Linked DNA regions of Homo sapiens. The protein of the gene in region 1 interacts with the protein of each later gene in a pairwise test. Each region holds a gene or a part of one and is shown in the gene's direction. Other genes may lie near its edges.

What was found.
Region 2: the proteins of UBQLN4 (region 1) and PTN interact in a two-hybrid assay, tested with the Homo sapiens proteins (2 studies listed by BioGRID and IntAct).
Region 3: the proteins of UBQLN4 (region 1) and MTNR1B interact in a two-hybrid assay, tested with the Homo sapiens proteins (one large-scale study listed by BioGRID and IntAct).
Region 4: the proteins of UBQLN4 (region 1) and CCDC134 interact in a two-hybrid assay, tested with the Homo sapiens proteins (one large-scale study listed by BioGRID and IntAct).
Region 5: the proteins of UBQLN4 (region 1) and UBR7 interact in a two-hybrid assay, tested with the Homo sapiens proteins (one large-scale study listed by BioGRID and IntAct).
Region 6: the proteins of UBQLN4 (region 1) and RAI2 interact in binary tests that used the Homo sapiens proteins (3 or more experiments, as listed by UniProt).
Region 7: the proteins of UBQLN4 (region 1) and ZDHHC3 interact in a two-hybrid assay, tested with the Homo sapiens proteins (one large-scale study listed by BioGRID and IntAct).

Annotation. Positions count from the first base shown.
Region 1 is NC_000001.11:156,043,799-156,047,298, reverse strand, and holds part of UBQLN4 (ubiquilin-4), read left to right. Parts: intron 1-3,075; coding exon 3,076-3,301; intron 3,302-3,500. UniProt on the Homo sapiens protein: Regulator of protein degradation that mediates the proteasomal targeting of misfolded, mislocalized or accumulated proteins.
Region 2 is NC_000007.14:137,337,234-137,340,733, reverse strand, and holds part of PTN (pleiotrophin isoform 1 precursor), read left to right. Parts: intron 1-3,500.
Region 3 is NC_000011.10:92,972,651-92,976,150, forward strand, and holds part of MTNR1B (melatonin receptor type 1B), read left to right. Parts: intron 1-3,500.
Region 4 is NC_000022.11:41,807,179-41,810,678, forward strand, and holds part of CCDC134 (coiled-coil domain-containing protein 134 isoform 1 precursor), read left to right. Parts: intron 1-1,696; 5' UTR 1,697-1,712; coding exon 1,713-1,815; intron 1,816-2,700; coding exon 2,701-2,822; intron 2,823-3,028; coding exon 3,029-3,113; intron 3,114-3,500. UniProt on the Homo sapiens protein: Molecular adapter required to prevent protein hyperglycosylation of HSP90B1: during translation, associates with nascent HSP90B1 and the STT3A catalytic component of the OST-A complex and tethers them to a specialized translocon that forms a microenvironment for HSP90B1 folding.
Region 5 is NC_000014.9:93,213,756-93,217,255, forward strand, and holds part of UBR7 (putative E3 ubiquitin-protein ligase UBR7), read left to right. Parts: intron 1-1,173; coding exon 1,174-1,227; intron 1,228-1,420; coding exon 1,421-1,526; intron 1,527-3,500. UniProt on the Homo sapiens protein: E3 ubiquitin-protein ligase which is a component of the N-end rule pathway. Recognizes and binds to proteins bearing specific N-terminal residues that are destabilizing according to the N-end rule, leading to their ubiquitination and subsequent degradation.
Region 6 is NC_000023.11:17,854,799-17,858,298, reverse strand, and holds part of RAI2 (retinoic acid-induced protein 2), read left to right. Parts: intron 1-3,500.
Region 7 is NC_000003.12:44,924,175-44,927,674, reverse strand, and holds part of ZDHHC3 (palmitoyltransferase ZDHHC3), read left to right. Parts: intron 1-827; coding exon 828-986; 3' UTR 987-3,500. UniProt on the Homo sapiens protein: Golgi-localized palmitoyltransferase that catalyzes the addition of palmitate onto various protein substrates.

The DNA of each region.
Region 1 (3,500 bases):
GCACTCTAGCCTGGGCGACAGAGTGAGACTCCATCTCAAAAAAAAAAAAAAAAAAATTCACAAGTTACACAAAGTAAACAAAAGGGTATTCCAAAAAAGTATGGAAAAGTATACAGGCTAAAAAAAGGTTTACAGAAGGGATCCCTCTGTTTCCATCTCCCAGCCAGCTCTTTTCTACCTCAGTGGTAACTAATGTTGTTAGTATCTTGTTTATTTTCCTAGACATATTTAATATTTGCAAATAAGACATAGGTAGAGTTGTAGCCTTTACAAACCCCTCCCCTCTCCTATTCTTTTTCTTTCCAGAGGTAACTAGTATGCTGAAGTTGAAGTTGGGGTTTATCATTCTGATTCTTTTATTACCTATGTATATGTCTATAAACGTCTATATATTATCATATTTTTAAATATGAGGTGGTACCATGCTGGTCTTATTATTTTAACTTGCTTTTGTTTTGAGACAGAGTCTCACTGTTTCGCCCAGGCTGGAGTGCAATGGCGCGATCTCAGCTCACTGCAACCTCCACCTCCTGGGTTCAAGCGAGTCTCCTGCCTCAGCTTTCTGAGTAGCCGGGACTGCAGGCTTGCACCACCACGCCTGGCTAAGTTTTGTATTTTTTAGCAGACACAGGGTTTCACCATATTGGCCAGGCTGGTCTCGAACTCCTGACCTTGTCATCTGCCTGCCTCGGCCTCCCAAAGTGCTGGGATTACAGGTGTGAGCCACTGCACTTGGCTGCTTTTTTTTTTTTTAATACAACCTTTAAAAATGTTTTGTGTTTTTGGTTTGTTTTGTTTTTTTGAGACGAAGTTTCACTCGTTGCCCAGGCTGGAGTGCAATGGCGTGATCTCAGCTCACTGCAACCTCCGCCTCCCGGGTTCAAGTGATTCTCCTGCCTCAGCCTCCCGAGTAGCTGGGACCACAGGCGCCCGCCACCATGCCCAGCTATTTTTTTTTTTTTTTTGTATTATTAGTAGAGACGGGGTTTCACCATGTTGGCCAGGCTGGTCTCGAACTCCTGACCTCAGGTGATCCACCCACCTCGGCCTCCCAAAGTGCTGGGATTATAGGCGTGAGCCACCGTGCCCGGCCTAAAACTGACAAACTTTTAAAATATTTGTTTCATTTAAAAATGACAATTTATTACAAGTTGGTGGAGCGTAGTGGCGCATGCCTATAATCTCAGCATTTTGGGAGGCTGAGGCAGGTGGATCACCTGAGGTCAGGAGTTTGAGACCAGCCTGGCCAACATGGCGAAACCCCATCTCTACTAAAAATACAAAACTTAGCCAGGTGTGGTGGTGGGTGCCTGTCATCCCAGCTTCTCAGGAGGCTGAGGCAAGAGAATTGCTTGAACCCTGGAGGTGGAGGTTGCAGTGAGCCGAGATTGTGCCTTTGCACTCCAACCTGGGCAGCAAAACGAGACTCCATCTCAAAAAAAAAAAATTATTACAAGTTAACATAAATAACATTATTTTGAAAAATAACTTTATTTTCCAAAACAAACAAAACTGTAGAGGAAAGTATGGACTTGTTTTACATTTTTGTAGTTCTCTTTGATGTCTAGCTTACTACAAGACAGCTGGTTCTCAGATCTGCATTCAGTTTGCAATGTCACATGTCATGTAGACTTTGGAAAACTCCACTGTATCCTCATGAGAGAATAAGAGTGAAAAAGACAAATTCATGTCTTAGAATTATGAAAACAGTTTTAATGCTTGCAGGGGTCCCAGGACCACACTTTGAGAACTGTTGTATTAGAGGAGTATTATAAGCATTAGAATAAATGTGTCAGGCACATAGTAGGTGCTCAATAAATGATGGTTGTTATCACTGTGGGTAGTTCAGGAAAAGAGATTTCGTCCTTAGAGTGTACCAGGAAGAATAAAGCGAGCCCAGAACAAGGTGGGGTGAGGTGCTAGGCAAGTATCAGAACAAGAAATCTGAAACAGGCACAGAGGCTGAAACCATGGTGCATGAACCCTGGCCTGTGAGCTCTGTTATCTGAACAGGATCTGGTGAGGTGAAGGAAACAGCTCAGAGTAGGAGAATCCTTGGTTAGCCCCGGTCCCCATGACCCACTTTCAATGAACAGGAAAAGCAGCTCAATATGAAACCCTACGGTGGGGAGGGGCTGAGGTAGGACCACCTGGGAACTCAGGAAAGAGAGCTGCTGAGCTCTTAGACCACAAGAAAGGCTGAGTAGGGAAAACTGAGTCTGGGACTCCCTCAGCCAGAGCTCTGTGCTAGGTGCTGGAGGGGAGGAGGTTCCGGTGTTGCCTTTGGGAAGCACACCATCCCATGGGGTATGGACCTGAGATATCCTGGGGAGCACAGTGAGGAGCATGGTAGGGCAAGGGGGACCAGAAGTAAACTGAGGCCTGTCCATCTGAAGTAGCCAGTGTGTAGAGGTAGGGTTTGGAGCAGGAGGGGAAAACCTAGAGAGGGCATATTCTGCTGGAGGTGTGTTCTGCTAGGGGCCGCCACTGTGGTGTGCCTGGATGGACAGAGAATGCCAGGTAGGGGACCTGGGGAGTGAGGGAAAGGTTCTGGGGAGTTAGGATTAGTCCAAGGAGGCTGGGGAAAGGGAAGATCGGGGTTCAAGTAGAGAGCCAGGTTTGACAGCCCACTCCCATTAAGCCAGTAGTTAGTTATTGAGCACCTACTAGTGTCGGGGCTGGGGGTGCACAGGCAAATCTGACATTGCCTCTGCCCCTTGAGGTACAGGAACACAAATATTTGGCTACACAATGGGAAAACTGTGTGTAAAGTGCGGTGGGTTACATAGGAGATGATTAGAGACCAAATATTGAAAGCCACCGGGGGGATGGGAAGTTTCCAATTATCTGAGAGGTTCAGTTATCCAGTCACTAGCATCAGCTAGCTCCCACCCTATGGAGCAAGGAAGGAGCTATCCATTGTGGGGCAAAGAACTGAACTGAGGACCTCTAAGGTCTTAGATCTCTCTCCCTTTTCTGGGGAAGGGGAGGCTATTAAGTGAGAGGAGAGAATGGGCCTAGCCCTTGTCCCTGATTTGTTTCAGTCCTTAACCCAAAACCTTTCCCTCCTCCCAGTTTGGCAACAATCCCTTCTCTTCCCTGGCCGGGAACTCCGACAGCTCATCCTCCCAGCCTCTGCGGACTGAGAATCGAGAGCCCCTCCCTAACCCCTGGAGCCCCTCGCCCCCCACCTCCCAGGCCCCCGGGTCCGGTGGGGAGGGCACCGGAGGATCGGGGACCAGCCAGGTGCACCCGACAGTCTCGAACCCCTTTGGGATCAATGCGGCTAGCCTGGGGTCAGGTATGTCCTAGGATGGAAGGAGCTTAGTGGGGTCACCAGGGCAGCCCCTCTGTCCCAGGACTGAATGGGGTTCATACTGCTCCAGGATTTTGAAGACAGAGGTGAGACTATCGAGGCCACAGAGGGGGCTCTGCCGTCTGGGATAGTGGCCGGGTGAGGGCTGGTTCTGGCCATGTCCTGATATCCCTAGGAGTGACCT
Region 2 (3,500 bases), on another chromosome or scaffold:
CTAGTGATGTTGAGTTGGGCTTCTCCATAAGGGTGAGGAATGTTTTTAGCTCTGGCTTCTGTTCTAAATGAATAGTCGAAGAGTTTTTGCCTCCTTCTGGCACAAGGTCATGTCACTGCTGTGGGAGGCGAAGTAAGATGATACTCAGATATGAACCTTCTTTTTATGAGCTGGGCTTGCTTTTTTCCATCCAGAGTCAATTGGCTTAAGTGGAATTTGGGCCATGGCCTCGTGGAAAGTTGTTTTTCCTTCTGATGTTTATGGACAATTCAAGTTTCCACCCACTGGGCTATTTTTCCATCCACTTCAAGCCAGTCTAGTGTGCGGCATAGTTTTCATGGTGTCATTACAATATTTCTAGATTGTAAAATATAACAAACCTCTTTTTCTTTCTATTTTGGCATTTAGTAAATAAGAAATTAAAACAGTATCTTAAAAGGGTAGCTATGATGGAACACTATCAGAGGGTATTATAAATATGGGAATATTGTGGACTTAATTATGTAGATCACATTCACCACAAATCTCTATTTCTTCAGGGTGGACAAGGAATACAATGACTCCTTCATGTTTGAGATATTTTTAGGGATAAAATTTAATTCATTTTTCTAGGCTTTATTTATTGAACCATTTTTTCAGAGTGGGTTGAGATAAAGTGATATCTCAAACAGAAAAAAATCATATCCAGTTTTCTAAAAATAGAAGTCTTAGATTTTTTTCAACTTCACACATAGTGTAACAAAAAATCAAGCGCTGTATATTAATCTTGAAAAAAGTGACTCATAGTAACTGATAATTGGGCTCTTAATTCTAAGAATTGCTCTTAGCAAAAGCTAAAACATAATTTTAAAACACAAATAGCATTCTGTCTCTAACCCTTTGCTCCCTTTTCTTCCTGCTTTTACATTTACCTATTTCTCCTTCTTTTCTCTCATTTCTCCATTAATTTGGTTGCCACTATTTCCCACCCAACAGGTCCCAGAACGTCTTGCCCAATTCCCTCTTGCTATGATGGCATACATTTCTCTATGTACGGATGTACCAGGAATGCCTGCCCATATGTTGGCATTCTTGGAAGCTTGGACCTTCCTAGCTGATGTTTTCAACACCAGTGCCCTCTCTACTGATTCAATGGCATTTTTCCCCCATTTTTTTTTTTTTTTTTGATTCAAGACCCTGCCTAAGGGTCAGGCAACATTTTCATCACTGCAATGTTGACCTCATTCTCTTCTCAGTTTCCCAACATCAATGTAGAGGCGCAGCTGGAGTTACTCATGTCCATCACATCGTCTCGGGGTCCTACTCCAACAATACAATTTTTCTTGCTCCTGTGGCCAGCCAATTTAACAATATTTATTGTACGTATGTTGGATGCCTAATACTACATTGTGCTGGACAATGTAGCATGTTTAAGAAATAGAACATGGTGTCTATCTCTATGGTTTCACAATATCTAATACTTTGTGTTTGGTACGTGGTGTGAACTTGTGAAATTCTTTATTAGAAATGTATTTAAAGGAGATCTCAATTAAAATCCATTATACCCTCACCCATCTCTGGAAAAGATGCTTTAAAAGTCACAGATTGCTAATCCCAACATTTTATGATTATCTCATACTGTAACCTCCTTGATATGTTATTGTCTTAATGTTTTCCTAATTTCTTTGGGCACTCCTTTTTTCATGTTTTGTTTTGCTTTTTTTTTTCTTGTCTTCCAAATGTGTACATTTATTTCCAAATATTTCAGTTTCCCGCCTTCCTCTCTCCTCTCCAAATGCTTTAGTATTGTCACAACTCTTCTTTGAGCTTTAACTCCTTCACAAGGAAAATTCTCAGATCTGAAGAGAATTGAAGGAAGATTCTCTCTAATGAGCTCTGGACTCACATTTTTAATATTTTTTCAATGAATACTGAAGGAAATCATTCAGGCACAATTCTATTTGGAGGAGGAGATTGAAGTAAAGGACTTCCTGTTATTTTATTTTTATCCCTACCAGACTTTTACGCATAGTGACTGACATACTATATGGTAGGTAGTGTGATGAGGGAAACAGGACAAATAAATATGTCTTCAAGCAGCTAATGATCTACTCAATATATATGTAAGAACATTAAAACACTAATTACTACAACACAGGTTAGAGGAAGATATGTACAATTGTTGCCCTAAGCAGTTCCAATGACAAAGGGATCACATTTTTATGAGAAAAAGGAAAGTGGAGCTCACAAAAGGCTAAATGGTACGCAACGTCTATTTCAAAAGCATTATGTCTGTTTGTTCCTTTAATGCTGTTTATTCTGGAAGGGAAATTGAACTCCTGATTCCTTCGTGTTTTCATTTCACATTTGCCACATAACGTAGCAGAAACAAATTATTGGAAGTGACAACTTAAGAATTCAGACTGAGTTTATTTAGAATCAATATAATTTTTAAGACATGGCACTCCCTGTAGATGTCCTTTTCAGGAAAATTTATACCAGAAGAGAAGAGTGTCCTTTAATGAAAACATATACATGAAGGGAAAGAAGGCAAATCCTTGTACTTCAGCTGTGGAATTTGGGTGAAATCTTGAGTCGGAAATTGAAGGCACCAAAGGTTTTCCAAGGCAAATGCCCCCTCTAGGTGGAGCTATATTTCTTCCCTTGTCTTCGAAGTCTCCCCATCACCCCTTATAGTGACTTCAGCTCCTCCTTTCTCACCATTTGACACCAGCCCCACCCCATCCAACCTGTGCACCCTATTAAGGCAAGGGCTGTCTCTCATTCTCTCAAGAACCCTAGCATATTTAGCATAGAACCATTGAAGATGGCAAATGAGTGAGAAAATAGGCAGCTCTAAATGCCATTCATTCTCTTTGCCCATGTTGTTCCACCCACCTTGACCATCTGTGTTCTATGCCTAATCCCCTTGCCTTACCAAACAACCTGGTGCCAATTTCCTGTTTAAGCCCAAGCATTCCCATTCTCAACTTTGAACCTCCAGAAACTTCTCCCACTCTCTTTCCTTCACTCCCTTCATTACAAATGTCATATAGGCTTGCTGGTTCTCTACAGTGTCTTCCTAATCATATTTCACCTTGATAATTTTAAACTTTTCATAGTTGCCGATTCAAGACTACCTCCAGAATGGAGAAAACCTTACTTACCTCTTCTTTAACAAACCATATTATTCAAAGTGACAAAGCTAGTAATTTGAAGCATTATTTTCATTATAACTTCTATGTAGCTATAAGGCCTGTTTTTAAAAATGTTTCACATTTATTTTTTCATCATATTTTTGTAACTCTACTCAGGTAGATTGAGTGGGATTTTTAAAAAATTGATACAGAAATGCAGGCTTAGAGAAGTTAAGGGGGCCATATTCAATGACATACAGATATGAAAACAAAAGTCTTAAAATTCCTAGTTTGAGTTTATTCCTCTGTAATATAATGCCATCTCTTTCTTAGGCTAATAAATAGATTTTATCTCCCATTTGTCTCTCATGTCAAACCCCAAAT
Region 3 (3,500 bases), on another chromosome or scaffold:
CTGGGTTGGCACCTCACGCCTGTCAGATTGTGCTTCCCAGGGACTTGCCACACTTTTGACTCTACTGAGAGCCGTTGAGAACTTTCCCTCCTGGGCTCACCACTGCTGCCCTGACCCTTGAGCTACACCTCGCTAATATTTATCTCTTGCATTTTTGAGCTCTTCCTTTCTCTCTTCTGGAAACTTCCTCCATGTTACACACACACACGATACACAAAGTCTCCTGTTTTAAAAGAACAAAAGACTCTTTTCTTGACTTCATGTCCTCCTAACTTCATCACTACCTCTCTCCCTCCCTTTTCAGCCAGACATTTTAATGTAGTTGTGGACATCTACTGGTTCTACCCCATTGCTTCCCGTCCTTCCTCAGTCCTCTGGGCGCCATTCTCTGGAAATGTTCCTCTGTGCTGTGTGTGACACTGAGGGCCACTCCCTCTGTGGGACCTTTCATTCCCTCGGCTAACCTGGTGCTAGTTTTTGGATCTCCTTTTTCTCTTCATCTCCCGGATACCTGTGCCCTGAAAGTCATCTTTGGTTCCTCCTACTCTTTCATTCCACATGTCCTAATGATTTTACCTTCCACTATTTCTCAATTTCTCCCTTTCCTGCCTCCTTATTCTTACTGCCCCACTTCATGCCTTCATCATCTCTTGAGCAAACACTATCCATAGTGCTTGAGAGCTTTTCCTGCTCCCTCCCCCAGCCACTGTTACCACTGCCAAGAGTTTCCCTGTCTTCAGTGGCTGCCCTCCATCTCCAGAACAGTGTCCAACTCCAGAGCACAGCTCCCACGGCCATTTGCGGCTGGCCTAGCCCACCTAACTTACAGCCTCATTGCCCTCCTCTCACCAGTGTCACAGTGAGCTGCTGCTACTTCCCAAAGGGTCTGCACTCCCTGATGTACTTTCTCTACCTCTTCTGCCCAGTCAACAGCTGCTCCTCCTTCAACTCCTTCCCCAACTCCCCTGAAGGATTATCAATGTTGATTATTAATACCATGAAGGGGATAGTAAGTGTCTCCCTTGTTGGGCTTCTAAGATACCTGTGCCCTCCCCAGTACAGCATCCCCCTCACTGTACTATTGTTCTTTGTCTCTCCCCGCTGGACCGTGTACCTGCTGAGAGCAGACACTTTCATTCAGTTTCTGTCCACAGAGCCAGACACATAGTAAGAACAGAACACATCTCTGATTAAATTGGAAATGGATAAGACACCAGGTAGTGGGGGAAAATTAATTGATTTTGCTCCATGAGCTGGGATAGACCTCAGTTACAGTACTCAGCACTGCATAAGTAATCAATACAGGTTTTCATGAAACTGAACTGCTTTGAGAACAGCCCAAAGTATATCTCATGTTAAGCTGACTATTGGCACCTTCTGCATGAAGGCATGCTTGTTCTGTGATTCTCCTGTGTGAGTAAAGTTGCTCAGCAGTTTCCAGCCATGCCATGGTTGTACCCTACTGATTCCTCTTGGGGAGTTTGCCCCTGATATGCTTTGGCTGTGTCCCTACCCATGTCTCATCTTGAATTCCCACATGTTGTGGGAGGGACCTGGTGGGAGGTAATTGAATCATGAGAGCAAGTCTTTCCCATGCTGTTCTCACAATAGTGAATAAGTCTCATGAGATCTGATGGAAAAAGAGAAACTCCCCTGCACAAGCTCTCTCTCTTTGCCTGCTGCCAGCCACATAAGACATGACTTGCTCTTCCTTGCCTTCCACCATGATTGGGAGGCTTCCCCAGCCATGTAGAACTGTAAGCCCAATGAAACCTTTCTTTTGTAAGTTGTACAGCCTTGGGTATGTCTTTTGTTGTTGTTGTTTTTTGTGAGACAGAGTTTCACTCTTGTTGCCCAGGCTGGAGTGCAATGGCATGATCTCGGCTTACTGCAACCTCTCCTGCCTCAGCCTCCTGAGTAGCTGGGATTACAGGCATGAGCCACCACACCTGGCTAATTTTTTTTTTTTCTGAGACAGAGTCTTGCTGTCGCCCAGGCTGGAGTGCAGTAGCGCAATCTCGGCTCACTGCAAGCTCCGCCCCCTGGGGTTCATGCCATTCTCTTGCCTCAGCCTCCCGAGTAGCTGGGACTACAGGCGACCGCCACCTCGCCCGGCTAATTTTTTGTATTTTTAGTAGAGACAGGGTTTCACCGTGTTAGCCAGGATGGTCTCGATCTCCTGACCTCGTGATCCGCCCGCCTTGGCCTCCCAAAGTGCTGGGATTACAGGCGTGAGCCACCGCGCCCGGCCTAATTTTGTATTTTTTAGTAGAGATGGTGTTTCTCCATGTTGGTCAGGCTGGTCTCAAACTCCTGACCTCAGGTGATCCACCCACCTCAGCCTCCCAAAGTGCTGGGATGACAGGTGTGAGCCACTGTGCCCGGCCTTGGGTATGTCTTTATCAGCAGCGTGAAAACAGACTAATACAGCCCCTTTCTTGGTCTGGCCCGAGGTGGCCACTTTTAAGCTGCCTGTAATATGCTGGCCATATAAGAGAGCTGAGAGAACCATGTCCTCACTGTAACACCCAAGTACTCTCCACTATCAGAGAGGAAGTCATAACAACACCAGTTATTCCTGGCTCCATAGGCACAGCCACCTTAATTTTCCAAGTAGCAGTCAGAAGCTGTGGTCTGACAATGGATTTTTGTGCTGCAAATGGGTTAAAGAGGCTGTCTGGGAGGTTTAGTGAGTGCACGAATTGGCATTTCTGGGGTACGTTGATGATTGGTAAAGCAGAAATATATGAACTATTTGATGTTAAGATTGCCTAGGAAAACATGGAGGATTTGCTTGCTGAACACACAGATCTTTGTCCAAGGTCACTCTGTCTATGCTGGCAAAGCTGCCCCTCCTCCAGGCCCCCAGTGATGCTAAGAATTCACACCATCTCCTATCCAGAACCAGTAACTGCCTGGGAGGTTCCTGATGGGAATATTCTGCCTATGCAGGTGCTTTGCTTCCCCGGTTAGATTAGAAAACAGTCTGCACTGTGGCCCCTGTTCCTTGCCTCCTCTCTTCCAACTTGTTGACTGAGACAGCAAATGATGCTTAATAAGCAGCATGGTTCTGAACAAAGGCTCTGGAAGGCCTAGAGTGAAATGCTTAATAGGCCCACAGCCCCTACCCTCCAAGTTATAGAATGAAGTGGAGCCCACTCCATCAAGGCTTCTATCCTACCACCGACCACTCATTGAGATGTCACTTGGCATCAGGTGTCTTTTGACTTGCTCAGCCTGCAATGTTTAGAGTGCCATTATCAGCCCAAGACCAAACTGGGTAACCTTGGACTCCTTCCTGAATGTTTCTTAAGCTGTCCAACTTTGCATTTCAGCTGTGAATACCTTATTGCCTCTTCACTGAGCAAAAATGAACAGTTTTTAAATCCCATAATTATGTCTTTAGCTGAATAATCAGGAAAGCTAATAATCCTCTTTAATTCCTCCCATGTAACTTTCAGTAGCTCAAGGGTATAAAGACTTTAATGTTTGCCTGTCTT
Region 4 (3,500 bases), on another chromosome or scaffold:
AAGTTATACTAGAGGAAAACATTGTTTTTCTAGGCCCTCAAGACAGAATATTTGAGTGTCAGGCCGTAACAGCAGAGTTAGAACCAGAGAAAAAAGCTATAGTAGCCGGGTGCAGTGACTCACACCTGTATCCCAGTACTTTGGGAGGCCAAGATGGGTGGATCACTTGAGCCCAGGAGTTCAAGACTAGCCTGGGCAATGTAGCAAAACCCACGTCTAAGAAAAATACAAAAAATAGCCGTGCATGGCGGCATGCACCTGTAGTGCCAGCTATTCAGGAGGCTGAGGTGGGAGGATGGCTTGAGCCTGGGAAGTGGAGGCTGCAATGAGCCATGACTGTGCCACTGCACTCCAGCCTGGGCAGCAGAGCAGGACCCTGTCTCAAAAAAAAAAAAAAAAATTACAGGAACTAACAAAAAACATTTAAGAGAATTACCACCCCAGCCAAGTGAAAAGATGCATCCTTTCAAGGGGAGAAAGAGGAAGGGTGGAAGGCAGCAATGTATGTCCTGGGAATCACCAGGAAAGTGAACTTCACAGTGCTCAATAAATAATTGTGTTGGCTGGGCATAGTGGCTCACGCCTGTAATCCCAGTATTTGGGAGGCTGGGGCGAGAGGATCTCTTGAGCTCAGGAGTTGGAGACCAGCCTGGGCAATATAGCAAGACCTCATCTCTACTAAGGAAAAAATAAATAAAAAGGGCCGGGCGCGGTGGCTCACATCTGAATCCCAGCACTTTGGGAGGACAAGGCAGGCGGATCACCTGAGGTTGGGAGTTCGAGACCAGCCTGGCCAATATGGAGAAACCCCGTCTCTACTGAAAATACAGAATTAGCTGGGCATGGTGGCGCATGCGTGTAATCCCAGCTACTCAGGAGGCCGAGGCAGGAGAATCGCTTGAACCCGGGAGGTGGAGGTTGCAGTGAGCCGAGATTGCGCCATTCCACTCCAGCCTGAGCAACAAGAGTGAAACTCCATCTTAAAAAAAAAAAATTAAATTAAAATAAATAAATAATTGTTGCATGTTGCCTGAATATGAACAGGTATTCTATGTAGTACCTATGGTTCCAAAGTGAGTGAGTAGCAAGCCCCCTTACCCCGAGACTGCCCTGCCTTCCTCCCTGCCCTTTGTCCCTTCTTACTTTCTGATGACAAAAGTCAAGGAAGGAGGAAAACTCCAGAAGTTTCATATCTTCTCTGCCTGGGCTTCCTTGACCAGATGCTTTCCTGGGAGACCAGGATAGGGGATGTGGAAGGAATACTGTTGACGAGCCCCTCCTCCCCAGGCACAGTGCCTCACCCAGACCTCCCTCCCTGCAGCAGGGAGGTGACCTCCTTATCCCTGTTCTACAGCTGAGAAGGCTGAGGCTCAGAAAGGCTGGGCAAGCTGCTCGAGGTCCCAGAGACGGGCGGGGGCAGGGCTCCAGCCTAGAGCTCTAGCCACTGACCCTGTGCTCTAAGTGTTCCTGTGTTACACACACTTATCTTTCTCCCCACCTCCTAGCATCCCACGGCTCTGTATTGTGTGCCTGCTGGCCCTGGGATAAGAGCTGCAGCTTCAGGGCTCCCCAAAGCTGGGTTCTTGGTATACAGAGGCTGCACTATGTCGGGGGAAGCTGCTGTTCACCTGTGCACTCTATTTTATGTAACACCGATCTCTGAGTCTCACTCTCTTTCTTTGGGTTATTCTTCCAGCTCAAGAGGTTTGGATATGGACCTTCTTCAATTCCTGGCCTTCCTCTTTGTCCTGCTTTTGTCTGGGATGGGAGCCACAGGCACCTTGAGGACCTCCCTGGACCCAAGCCTGGAGATCTGTATCCTTTGGGGTTGTAGTTAATGAGCTGTCTTTGAGAGGTCTATAAATGAGGTTCTTCTACTCAGGGATTCCAGGGATAAGCAGGCCCAGCTGGCGGGAACAGGGAGAAAAGGTGAGGTGCTCTAGCCAGACCTTGAGCAAGTCAGGTCTCTCCGGAGCTTCAGCTTCCGCGTATGGTAAATGGAGATGACAAGGCCCATCTCTAGACTGCAAAGGCTCAGTGAGGACTGTGCATGGCCTGGCACCTTGTGGGCAAGATCCTGGGTGGAGACTCAGGAATTCTGGATTACTGGCCCATCTGGACCCTGGTGAACTGGGCCACCTGCTCCAGGCCAGGCCTCAAGGACACGAAGATGAATTACAACAAGTCCCCTGGCTTTGAGGTGTCCATAAGCCCAGGGGGAGAAAGTATCCAAACAAATGATCATGTTACTCTGTGACCAGTGCTCTGATGGGCACAGGAGGGGTCAGGGAGAAACACTGTGTGATGGTTTTTGAGCCAGGCCTTGAAAGGAAAGAAACTCCTAGAGGAGGGTGAGGGGCATCCTGGGCAGAGAGGGTGCAGCGCGAGCAGAGAGGTGGAGGCTCTGGAACAGTAGAATGCTTGTGGAGACGGCAGGAAGACCACAGCAAAGGGAAGGCAGGAGCCAGGTCTGGAGGCTTGGTTTCAGGCTTCTGGGTGTGGAGCGCCATGGGAACTGGATGAATAGTGCGTTGCAGGTCCATGCACTTGTCAGTTTGTTCATTTCCTGGAGGCTTCTAGCCCTGGGTGTCCATGGCCCTTGCAGATACTTGCTGGTCAGGAATGAGCCTTCTGAGGCAAGACTGCTGGATTGTCCAGGCAGGGCTATTGATGCCAGCCCCTTAACTTAATTCTGCCCAGACAAGAAGATGTTTGAGGTGAAGCGGCGGGAGCAGCTGTTGGCACTGAAGAACCTGGCACAGCTGAACGACATCCACCAGCAGTACAAGATCCTTGATGTCATGCTCAAGGGGCTCTTTAAGGTGTGTGCAGGCAGGGGGCAGCTCATGGCAGGTCCAGTCTTTGATCTAGGCACTGATGGGTAAACAGGAGTTCCCTAACGGGTTGGTGTTCAGGGACAGGGGAACTGCGCACACGTAAGACTTGAAGTGGGGTTTAAATAAATGGGGATGGGAGCAGTCTGTGATGGGCACTGCGAAGCCACTCAGCCCTGGCGGGATTCCCTCAGGTGCTGGAGGACTCCCGGACAGTGCTCACCGCTGCTGATGTGCTCCCAGATGGGCCCTTCCCCCAGGACGAGAAGCTGAAGGATGGTATGGTCTGCCCTGCCCCGCCCTGTCCTCCGCACCACCCGATCTTCTCTAGCTGCTCCTTCTCTCCTGTTCTTGTCACTCTTTTTTTCTCCCCGGAAGTGCCCTCTTGTGGCACCTTCTAAGTGGTCCCCTTGGGCAGATGGGCGTTTCGTGAGTGGCCTCCCTAATTAACTGGCTACTTTTTAGCAATAGCATTTCTTTTTTTTTTTTTTTTTTTTTTTTTGAGACAGAGTCTCACTCTGTCGCCAGGCTGGAGTACAGTGGTGTGATCTCGGCTCACTGCAACCTCCACTTCCCGCGTACAAGTGATTCTCCTGCCTCAGCCTCCCAAGTAGCTGGGACTACAGGCACATGCCGCCACACCCAGCTAGTTTTTGTATTCTTAAT
Region 5 (3,500 bases), on another chromosome or scaffold:
TCTGGGTATTTACCGATTTGAAAGAGTACTTTTTGTCTTTAGAGATATTAGTCTTCTGCCTTCTTCCTTGCTTTCTAATTGCGTTGGAACTATAATTATTGAACCAAATTATATAGAGGGACAGATTGAAAGTCTCTTTGAGTTAACAAAAATAAAACCTTAAAACTGGATTTTTTTTTTCTTTTTTTTAAGACGGAGTTTCGCTCTGTCACCCAGGCTGGAGTACAGTAGTGCGATCTCAGCTCACTGCAACCTCTGCCTCCCAGGTCCAAGCGATTCTTCTGCCTCAGCCTCCTGAGTAGCTGGGATTACAGGCACTCGCCACCATGCCCGGCTAATTTGTGTATTTTTAGTAGAGACAGGATTTCAGCATGTTGGCCAGGCTAGTCTTAAACTTCTGACCTCAGGCGATCCACCCACCTTGGCCTTCCAAAGTGCTGGGATTATAGGCGTGAGCCACCACGCCCAGCCAAAACTGGATATTTTAAGGCATGTGGTAAAGTGTTACAGCTCCTCCTGTTCCACAATATGTGCTTTTTTATTCCCTTTAAGAAGCCTACGATAGGAAAAGGACAGAACAACATTGGGATGTTAATTAACAGTTATGAGAGCCTGGGAGTAAAAGAAAATCATCCCCAAAATAGTCTATGTCCTTTGGTATATTATTTTCCTAGGGCCAGCATTTAATTATTTAATTTATTCAAATTAGAGGAGTTATCTATCGAGGTTTTTCATAACATTTACTTTTCAGTGTACTTGGCAGGATGGTTCTTCTGCAGCAGAAAGGCATTGTCTAATTTTTCAATATTATAAAGAAGGCTGGAGTGAACATCCTTATACAGTAATACAACTGAATATTGTATTAAAGGATGGTGTGGTAAAAAGTCCCAGTTGTCACTGTCTGCACTGGTCCATTCACATTACTTGCCTGGGCCTGAGTTTTGTATAAAATGGGAATGCCCTCCTTGTCTACACAGTTTTGTGAGAATCAGATATTAAGTAATGGATGTGAAAGAGCCTTGAGATTGTTTGTAAAGTGCTTATCTCAATGTAAGCCTTTGGAACACCAGTTCATGTAGAACAAATATTTAGTATCTTATTTTACTGTGTGCCAGGTTATTTCCATGTTCCCGAATTCAATGTAATCCTTAACAAACTGCTTTTCTCTGTTAGATTCCAGATGAGATGATCCAGTGCGTAGTCTGTGAAGACTGGTTCCATGGAAGGGTAAGGAAAATGTTCCACCTTTTGAAACCATTGTTGTCACAAAAAGATAAAGGTTATATTTTACATTATAATTAGTCTTCTAAAAATAAATTCTAATGATATGATCAGTGTATTATTACAGTATTTATAAAATAATGGGCATTTTGGACAATTTGGCAATCACAAGAAAATTTTTGGTGTTCTATATTCACAGCATCTTGGTGCCATTCCCCCTGAGAGTGGGGATTTTCAGGAGATGGTATGCCAGGCCTGCATGAAACGTTGTTCTTTTTTGTGGGCTTATGCTGCACAATTGGCAGGTAGGTATCTTTGTGAAGTTGGTGTGCCACAAACTTGTGCTTGTGAAATTTGTATGTTCAATTCAGAATTTTTAGCAACTATTTTTAACTGGGCTCTGTGGTTATAAAATAGTATATGTTCTGGCCAGGCATGGTGGCTCACGCCTGTAATCCCAGCACTTTGGGAGGCCAACAAGACAGATGGATCACCTGAGGTCAGGAGTTCGAGACCAGCCTGGCCAACATGGCGAAACCCCATCTCTACTAAAAATATGAAAATTAGCCTGGCGTCACGGCGCTTGCCTGTAATCCCAGCTACTCCAGAGGCTGAGGCAGGAGAATCACTTGAACCCAGGAGGCAGAGGTTGCAGTGAGCCGAGATCACGTCACTGCAGTCCAGCCTGGGCAATAGAACAAGACTCCATCCTCAAAAAAAAAAAAAAAAAAAAAGAATAGTATGTGTTCTTTCTCCACAAGGTGCATAGATTTGTTGGGATACTACCAAAAACAAATTTATACTTAAATGATATGATGCAGAGTATTGATGAGACCAGAGTTAGAGAATGGAGGAGGCAGTTTTTGAATGGGATTTTGAAAGATAAATAGAACTGAAATAAGTTGTTAATTCTAACACATGGTATCAGTTGGGGAGGAGGTGGTGTCTTAGTCTGTCTGGGGTGCTAAAACAAAATACCTTAGGCTGGGTAATTTATAAACAATAGACAGATATTTCTCACAGTTCTGGAGACTGGGAAGTCCAAAATTCAGGTGCCCGCAGAGTCAGTGTTTGGTTGAGGGCCCATTCCTCATAGACAGATCCTTCTACGTGTCCGTACCTGTTAAAAGGGGCAAACAAGCTCGCTTGGGCCTCTTTTATAAGTCAGAGCCCTCGTGAATGGGATTAGTGCCTTTATAAAAGTGGACTACAGGCACACACTACCATGCCCTGCTAATTTTGTATTTTCTGTAGAGACAGTGTTTCACCATGTTGCCCAGGCTGGTCTTGAACTCCTGAGCTCAAGTGATCCACTCATCTTGGCTTCCCAGACTGCTGGGATTACAGGCATGAGCCACCATGCCCAGTCTATCTGGTGCTTTTATTATACACTAAGAAATTAAATCAAAACAACTAATTAATGAATGGTCCTGAGGCATTAACTATCTTATTGGTAATGCTTTATGTATTTCTTTATTTTTAAGGTGGCAGTTACTCATGGTATCTGCTGCTTAGGCTTCATAATTTCTTGCCTTTCTCATCTTTAGAGACCAGTTCACCATACAAACCATGAGCAGCATAGCCATACCTCTGATCTCATCCTACAGTTTAGATTTGCCTTAGAGTTCTTTTGTTTTTCTGCCTTTTTTTTTTTTTTGAGACAGAGTCTCACTGTGTTATCCAGGCTGGAGTACAGTGGTGCTATCTCGGCTCACCTCAACCTTGCCTCCTGGGTTCAAGCGATTCTTGTGACGCGGCTTCCAGAGTAGCTGGGACTACAGGCACATGCCACCACACCTGGCAAATTTTTGTATTTTTAGTAGAGACAAGGCTTTTACCATGTTGGCCAGGCTGGTCTCAAACTCCTGATGTCAAGTGATCCACCCGCCTCGGTCTCCCAAAGTGCTGGGATTACAGGCATGAGCCACCACGCCCGGCCAGTTTGCCTCAGAGTTCTTAAGTGCTGCTCCCTTTCTGTTCACACCCTTTCCAGTGATCTCTCTCACTGTCCACAGATGCTGAACCTATCTATGTGTAGTTCTCATTCATTGGGTTTTTTTGTTTTTTCAAGACGGAATCTTGCTCTGTTGCCCAGGCTGGAGTGCAGTGGCACAATCTCTGCTCACTGTAACCTATGCCTCCTGGGTTCAGGCAATTCTCCTGCCTCAGCCTCCCAAGTAGCTGGGATTACAGGCATGCACCAGCATGCCTAGCTAATTCTTCTATTTTTAGTAGAGAAGGGGTTTCACCATGTTGGCCAGGCTGGTCTCGAACTCCTG
Region 6 (3,500 bases), on another chromosome or scaffold:
TTACAGATAAGGAATCTGAGGCTCAGATAAATTTCCAGTTGTGTATCTGATTTCAGACTTTGGTGGTTATGATTTAAAGGGGCAACATGTCCCTATTCCCCTGCTCCAGGTCTCTTATTTATTTCTCTTAACCTGTCTGAACCTCAGTTTCCTTACCTACAAGATGGGAATAATCTTTCCCATCTCACATAGACGTTGTAAAGATTAAAGTGGGACACGTCAGCATGGAACCACGAAGGACTAAAACTGGAGTATGACACCAGGAACTCCAGGCCCCTAACCAAACATACAAATCTCTGGATCTCTTCCTGCTGGATCTTTCAGCCCCTCCACCTTGGCAAAATCTGGTACACAGTTGGTGGGGATTGGGGGGAAGGTGGAAGCCCACCAGTGGGCAACCCAGTCACCCACAGTGCATACTTATGTGCCAAGTAGATAGATCCGAAATACCCTGTGTCAGATGGACAGACTGTACCCTTTCATCTTGGAGTCCCCACCACCCAACTGTTGCTTAATAAATGAGAGTTGAGTGACTAAATGATGGCACTGATGGAGTGAATGGCAGTGGGGAGGGGGCTGTAGATCATTGTTAAGGGAGACCCAGCAAGGAGAGATCCAGAGATTTGTACGTTTGGTTGGGGGCCTGAAGTTCCTGGTGTCATATTCCAGTTTTAGCCCTTGGTAGCTCCATGCTGACAAGCCCCAGTTTAATCTTTACAAAATCCATGGGAGATGGGCAAGATTATTCCCATCTTGTAGGTGAGGAAACTAAGGCTCAGAAAGGTTAAGCAACTAACTCAAAGTCCACGAGGGACCAAAGGCTGGGTGAGGTATTTTTAACTAGAAACTGTCTCAAATAAACAAACACTCTATAGGAAAATGAGGAGGGAACTTGCTATGCAAATGTATCGTTAAAGCAAGCCCCGTAGCCCCCTTCCAACCAGGTGGTAGTCTTCAAACTCCTAGAAATTCTGGAGCCACCGAGGGAGCTGGGCTTTGAATCTATGTATGAGGAGCTCCTCAATGCTGCCTCCCTGAACAGAATATGAGGGAGACCTCAGAGAATGAGGGGGAAAGATGGCTAATTGCACTCTTCCCACACACAAAAGCCTGCGTGGGATTCTGAATTAAGCTTGATTTGGGGATCAGGGTGACATCCTTGCTGTAGAGTTGGCAGCTCTTGTCTTTGGAGAATGCCTCTGATTACCACTTCTCCCTCCCACCTGATCGTCTGCCCGGGTGCCCATCATCTCATTCTTTCCAGACTCAAAGCCTTTCCTTCATGGCTCACAATGTTGATGAGCCTCTTGAGTCTGCCACTTCACTGTCCTCTGATGGCAGCTGGTGAGAAGCTGATTTTGGCGGCCAGGTTAGTACTTCTGGAGTTCACACATGACCCTCCTCTCTCCTGCCAAGAACACACACACGAACACACATGCACACACAGACACAGGCACACATAATTTGATCACGTTTCTGTATCTGCTTCACCAAATTAGATTCAAACCCAGAATTGTTATTGGAAGAAGTATGTGACTTTGGTGTTCTCTCCCAGCCCCTGCCCTGAACAGACCAGAACAGCTAAGATGGAGGCAGCTTAGCCAGCAGATGTCTTGAGCCATGATCATACTTGCTGGCCTTCCCACTGCTGTGGGGCAGCACCGCAAAACATGGGCATGGTCTGCCTTCATCCGTCTGGGCTGCTATAACAAAATCCCATAGGCTGGGTGACTTATAAATGATAGAAACATATTTCTCACCGTTCTGGAGGATGGGAAGTCAAAGATCAAGATACCGGCAGATTCAGTGTCTGGTGAGGGCTTTTTTCCTGGTTCAGAGATGGCATCTTCTTGCTGTGCCCTCACATGGTAGAAGGGGCAAGTGACCTCTCTGGGGCTTCTTTTACAAGGGCACTCATCCCATTCATGAAGGCTCCACTCTCACGACCTAATCACCAACCAAATGCCCCACCTCTTAATACCATCACGTTGGGGATTAGGATTTCAACACAGGAGTTTGGAGGGGACAGACACATTCAGACTATGCATGGTCCCAGGGCCTTTCATAAAAGCCCATTTTAATCTCTACTGAGACATAGGGCTGGGCTCCTTGAACATCCCAATCCTTGTAATTCCAATTTCTGCTGTAATTAGCTCCAACAACTCAGTAATTCTAGAGAACTTTGGAGCACACTCTGCTCACACCTGTCACTCCTCTTCCCACAACTTTTTGGTCTTCCAGCACAGCACTGTCTAATAAAACTTTCTATGATGATGGAAATGTCACATGTTTGCACTGTCCCACACACTAGCCACTAGCCACATGCAGCCATAGAGTGCTTGAAAAGTGGTTGGTCCAAATTAGGATGTGCATTAAATATAACAGATGCATGGGATTTCTGTGACTTAATACAAAAAAAGAATCCAAAATAGCTCATTAATAAGCTTTGCATTGATTACATGGTAAAATGATAATATTTTGAATATATTAGTTAAATATGATAGAGTATTAAAATTAGTGGCTTCTTTTATTTTTTTAAATGTGACTACAAAAAAAATTTAAATTACATAAACATTTCTATTAGACAGAGCTGCTCTGGAGCAAACTAACCAACCTCGTGACTTCAGCCTCCAGATGTTCTGGGGACATAAACGCTCTCCATCTCGATGGCAGGTGGGAGGCAGGGGGCTGAGTCAGTAGCCACAGCAGCCTGGCATCAAGCGATTTTGATTTTCAGTAGCTCAGGTGCCATGATGGAGGTTCCCCGTGGAAACTAGCCATGAGCATGTTGGCTCAGTCTCATGCTCTATGAGGAATGTGGGACCCAGAAACCCAATAGAATGGGCACAGGCAGGACTGGCTTGAATGAAATGGCTCTTTCCTTTCCTCGACCCCACCCACCCCACAGGCCGGTGTCCTTGTCCATCGGAGAATTCCTTGACACCTGCTCTAGTAGCAGCTTAAAGTACTATCCATCCCAGGGATTTGTGCTTGGAGAGTAATGTCGCCAGTAGACACCCTCATGCTGACAGTGGGTTATTTAGGGCCAGGGCCAGCCTTAAAGGAGAGAAAATAAAAAAGAGAATGCACACTGTCATTTCCTGACAGCTTGATGAGAACAAGAGCAAGGACATAAATAAAATTTCTGCGAGGGAGACAGAATAAATGCAAGGAAGGTCAATTTCACACAACCATAGCACAGCAGATGAAGAAACCTGGCCAAAGGAGAGTTCAGGGAGGTAGAAGAAGGATTTTGGCTGGCACTATGGTATCATCACATCACATCATTTCTGGGTCCTTCCCTAGGCACTGGTCATGGCATAAATAGACGGAAAGGGATGGGATAATGAACTTGGGACTGCAGTGATTTACAGGTCAGGCGCCTGTGGCTCTGGCTCCTGAGGGGGCTGCCCTCACAGGGGACCCTTGGCTGACCCCCTTGGGCTCCTCAGAAGGAGTTGGTTTTGTTTCACATGGCAGAAGCAGACTGTTTACTGGAG
Region 7 (3,500 bases), on another chromosome or scaffold:
GTTTTTTCCTGAGACTTAGCAGGGGAAGCAGCGCTGGCTCCGTGACAGCTGCTGCATAGGTCTGCGCCATGCTTCTCCCCAAAGGAGCCACTAGGAGGACCTTTGCCATGCCATGCTGGCTGGCCTGGCCATGCCACCCTCTAACCTGTACTAATCCCTCCTCCTTCCTCCTCTGGTGACTTCTCCCCTCATTCGTGGTCTGTCACTCCTATTCAACCTTCTCAGTTTGTGTCTCACCAGGCCCACTAAGCGGGGTGCTGCTTGATCCCCCAGGCTGGTGAGACACACAACGCCAGAGCAGTCATTTGATTTGTTACTTTTTTTTTGTCTGCAAGGTGGTCATGGTAGCTTCAAACTTCCTAGGAACCTATCCCAAATTAATGGCCATCATTGGTTATGATGATTGCGAGCTCCCCAACAGCTCTGAGGCCTCTCACGCCAAAGCCTTCATAGTACTCCATCCACAGCCCAGCACAGAGTTTCTGAAGAGTGCCTCTGCAGAGCTCAACAAGGGGCCAGGGCTGGAGAGACGCGCTCCTTATCTTAGCGACACACCCCGGCCTGGCATACTTACAAGCAGCAGTTTCTGCGCTGCTGATAGTGCTTCTTTTTCCCTCCCTTCTTGGAGGGACTTGTGAATGAGTGCCCACCAAAAAAAGGAGAAATTTTTTTAGTAACACTTTTTATGAGAAAGATATATTAGGTAGATAGCTTTGTTGCTTTAAAAAGGAAACATTTACTCCATTCACCTGTCGCTGCGGACATCCCTCCCCAGAAACCACAGCAATGCAGTGCTTGACTGAAAGTATGATTGTTCTTGTTTTCAGGGAATAGAACAATTGAAAAAGGAAGAGAGAAGATGGGCTAAAAAAACAAAATGGATGAACATGAAAGCCGTTTTTGGCCACCCCTTCTCTCTAGGCTGGGCCAGCCCCTTTGCCACGCCAGACCAAGGGAAGGCAGACCCGTACCAGTATGTGGTCTGAAGGACCCCGACCGGCATGGCCACTCAGACACAAGTCCACACCACAGCACTACCGTCCCATCCGTTCTCATGAATGTTTAAATCGAAAAAGCAAAACAACTACTCTTAAAACTTTTTTTATGTCTCAAGTAAAATGGCTGAGCATTGCAGAGAAAAAAAAAAGTCCCCACATTTTATTTTTTAAAAACCATCCTTTCGATTTCTTTTGGTGACCGAAGCTGCTCTCTTTTCCTTTTAAAATCACTTCTCTGGCCTCTGGTTTCTCTCTGCTGTCTGTCTGGCATGACTAATGTAGAGGGCGCTGTCTCGCGCTGTGCCCATTCTACTAACTGAGTGAGACATGACGCTGTGCGTGGATGGAATAGTCTGGACACCTGGTGGGGGATGCATGGGAAAGCCAGGAGGGCCCTGACCTCCCACTGCCCAGGAGGCAGTGGCGGGCTCCCCGATGGGACATAAAACCTCACCGAAGATGGATGCTTACCCCTTGAGGCCTGAGAAGGGCAGGATCAGAAGGGACCTTGGCACAGCGACCTCATCCCCCAAGTGGACACGGTTTGCCTGCTAACTCGCAAAGCAATTGCCTGCCTTGTACTTTATGGGCTTGGGGTGTGTAGAATGATTTTGCGGGGGAGTGGGGAGAAAGATGAAAGAGGTCTTATTTGTATTCTGAATCAGCAATTATATTCCCTGTGATTATTTGGAAGAGTGTGTAGGAAAGACGTTTTTCCAGTTCAAAATGCCTTATACAATCAAGAGGAAAAAAAATTACACAATTTCAGGCAAGCTACGTTTTCCTTTGTTTCATCTGCTTCCTCTCTCACCACCCCATCTCCCTCTCTTCCCCAGCAAGATGTCAATTAAGCAGTGTGAATTCTGACTGCAATAGGCACCAGTGCCCAACACATACAGCCCCACCATCATCCCCTTCTCATTTTATAAACCTCAAAGTGGATTCACTTTCTGATAGTTAACCCCCATAAATGTGCACGTACCTGTGTCTTATCTATATTTTAACCTGGGAGACTGTTGTCCTGGCATGGAGATGACCATGATGCTGGGGTTACCTCACAGTCCCCACCCTTTCAAAGTTGACATATGGCCATCCCATTGGCCAGAATCCACAGACACACCTAAGCCTGTGGCACTGGGACAGAATAGATTTTCCATTTGAGAGGCACTTCCTGTGTCAGTCTTGTTTGAAGGAGGTGGTGATGGTGGATAGAGGTGAAGGAGGTAGGGAGTGCCCTCCAAGTGCAAAAATAACAAATATGATTATTGACCATCGGGGAATTCTCACACATTGATTTGTTTTTTAAGCAATTGCCAGAAACCCCCTTTTTTAGCTTTTGCTTGGGGTGGGGGTAGGAGTTAAGGTTTATTCAATCCTGTCCTGGGTAGGGCGAAAGTTAATCTAGCCATGTGATTTTTCAGAAAAGTAAGTGGAACATGCTGCCACTTTTCAATTCTGTCAGTGCTTCCACATGGAAACAAAATGCAATAAAATTTTTCCAAAACCTGTTCTGATTTAGCTCTCTCTTGAGGTGTTACCCTTAGTGGGAGGCCGACTATCCACAATCTACTTGAGTTTTCTCTGGTTGGGTGTTTGTTTCATTGCTCTGTCTCTTGAATGAGGATACTTTATTTTTTTTGTTTTAAAATGCATTTATGGTCCCTCTCTTGAACCAGCTTGCCCCACCAGGCCTCTTTCCTTTGCTTTCTGCAGCCTGAATCAATTCCTTTGTGCTGATGGGCTCTCCTAAGAGCTTTCCTGAGTCAGTTAACTTTACCTCGTGTCTACGGTGCTATTCATGCGATACGGGCGAGGCTGAGATGCTAAGATTAAAAAGAAAAGAATGCTGTTTTAGATCAAGTTGATAGCATTTGTTTTCCATATGCTTTTTTAAAATTTTTTCATAACATACAGCTCAGTTAGGTGTATGAAAGAAGTGTTATTGTATTAAATAACTAGAGCAGGGCTACAGCTCTGGCCCTCCCCTAGGGGGAAGAGATTGGTAATACTCCATCTTCCAGGGCATTTTTTAAAGTGAGCCAGGTTAGCTCTTTTCCCCTGGCATTTCTCAGGAATGCAGTAGATAGTGCTGAAGATGCACTGACTTTTTTTTAGTCCTAAAAATAGAAACTCCTCCTTTAAAGCTGTGCATACTATGCTTATCTTTCCAATAGAGTGGGGTTCCTTCAGATATCCTATAGGATTCTGCCTCTGGTTTTGTATAGGCCTTGGCTAGAAAGAGTCAATGTTTCTGAGCTCTCAAACCAGTTGCTCTCAGAAGATAGGAATACCCCAAGGTTCCTGGCATTTTTCCTATTTCATTTTTGTTCAGACTGATATTTTGCCAAGAGCACAATGACTGAGGAATGTAGCCATCATTTGCAGGGTAGTGATTGGTTCCCAGCCTGGCTTCCACACAGGACAGGAAGGGAAAGCATCCCTGAGCTCTCCTCAGTATTTCCGGATGTAATGAAAGAGGACATCTTTCTACACAAAGTCAGC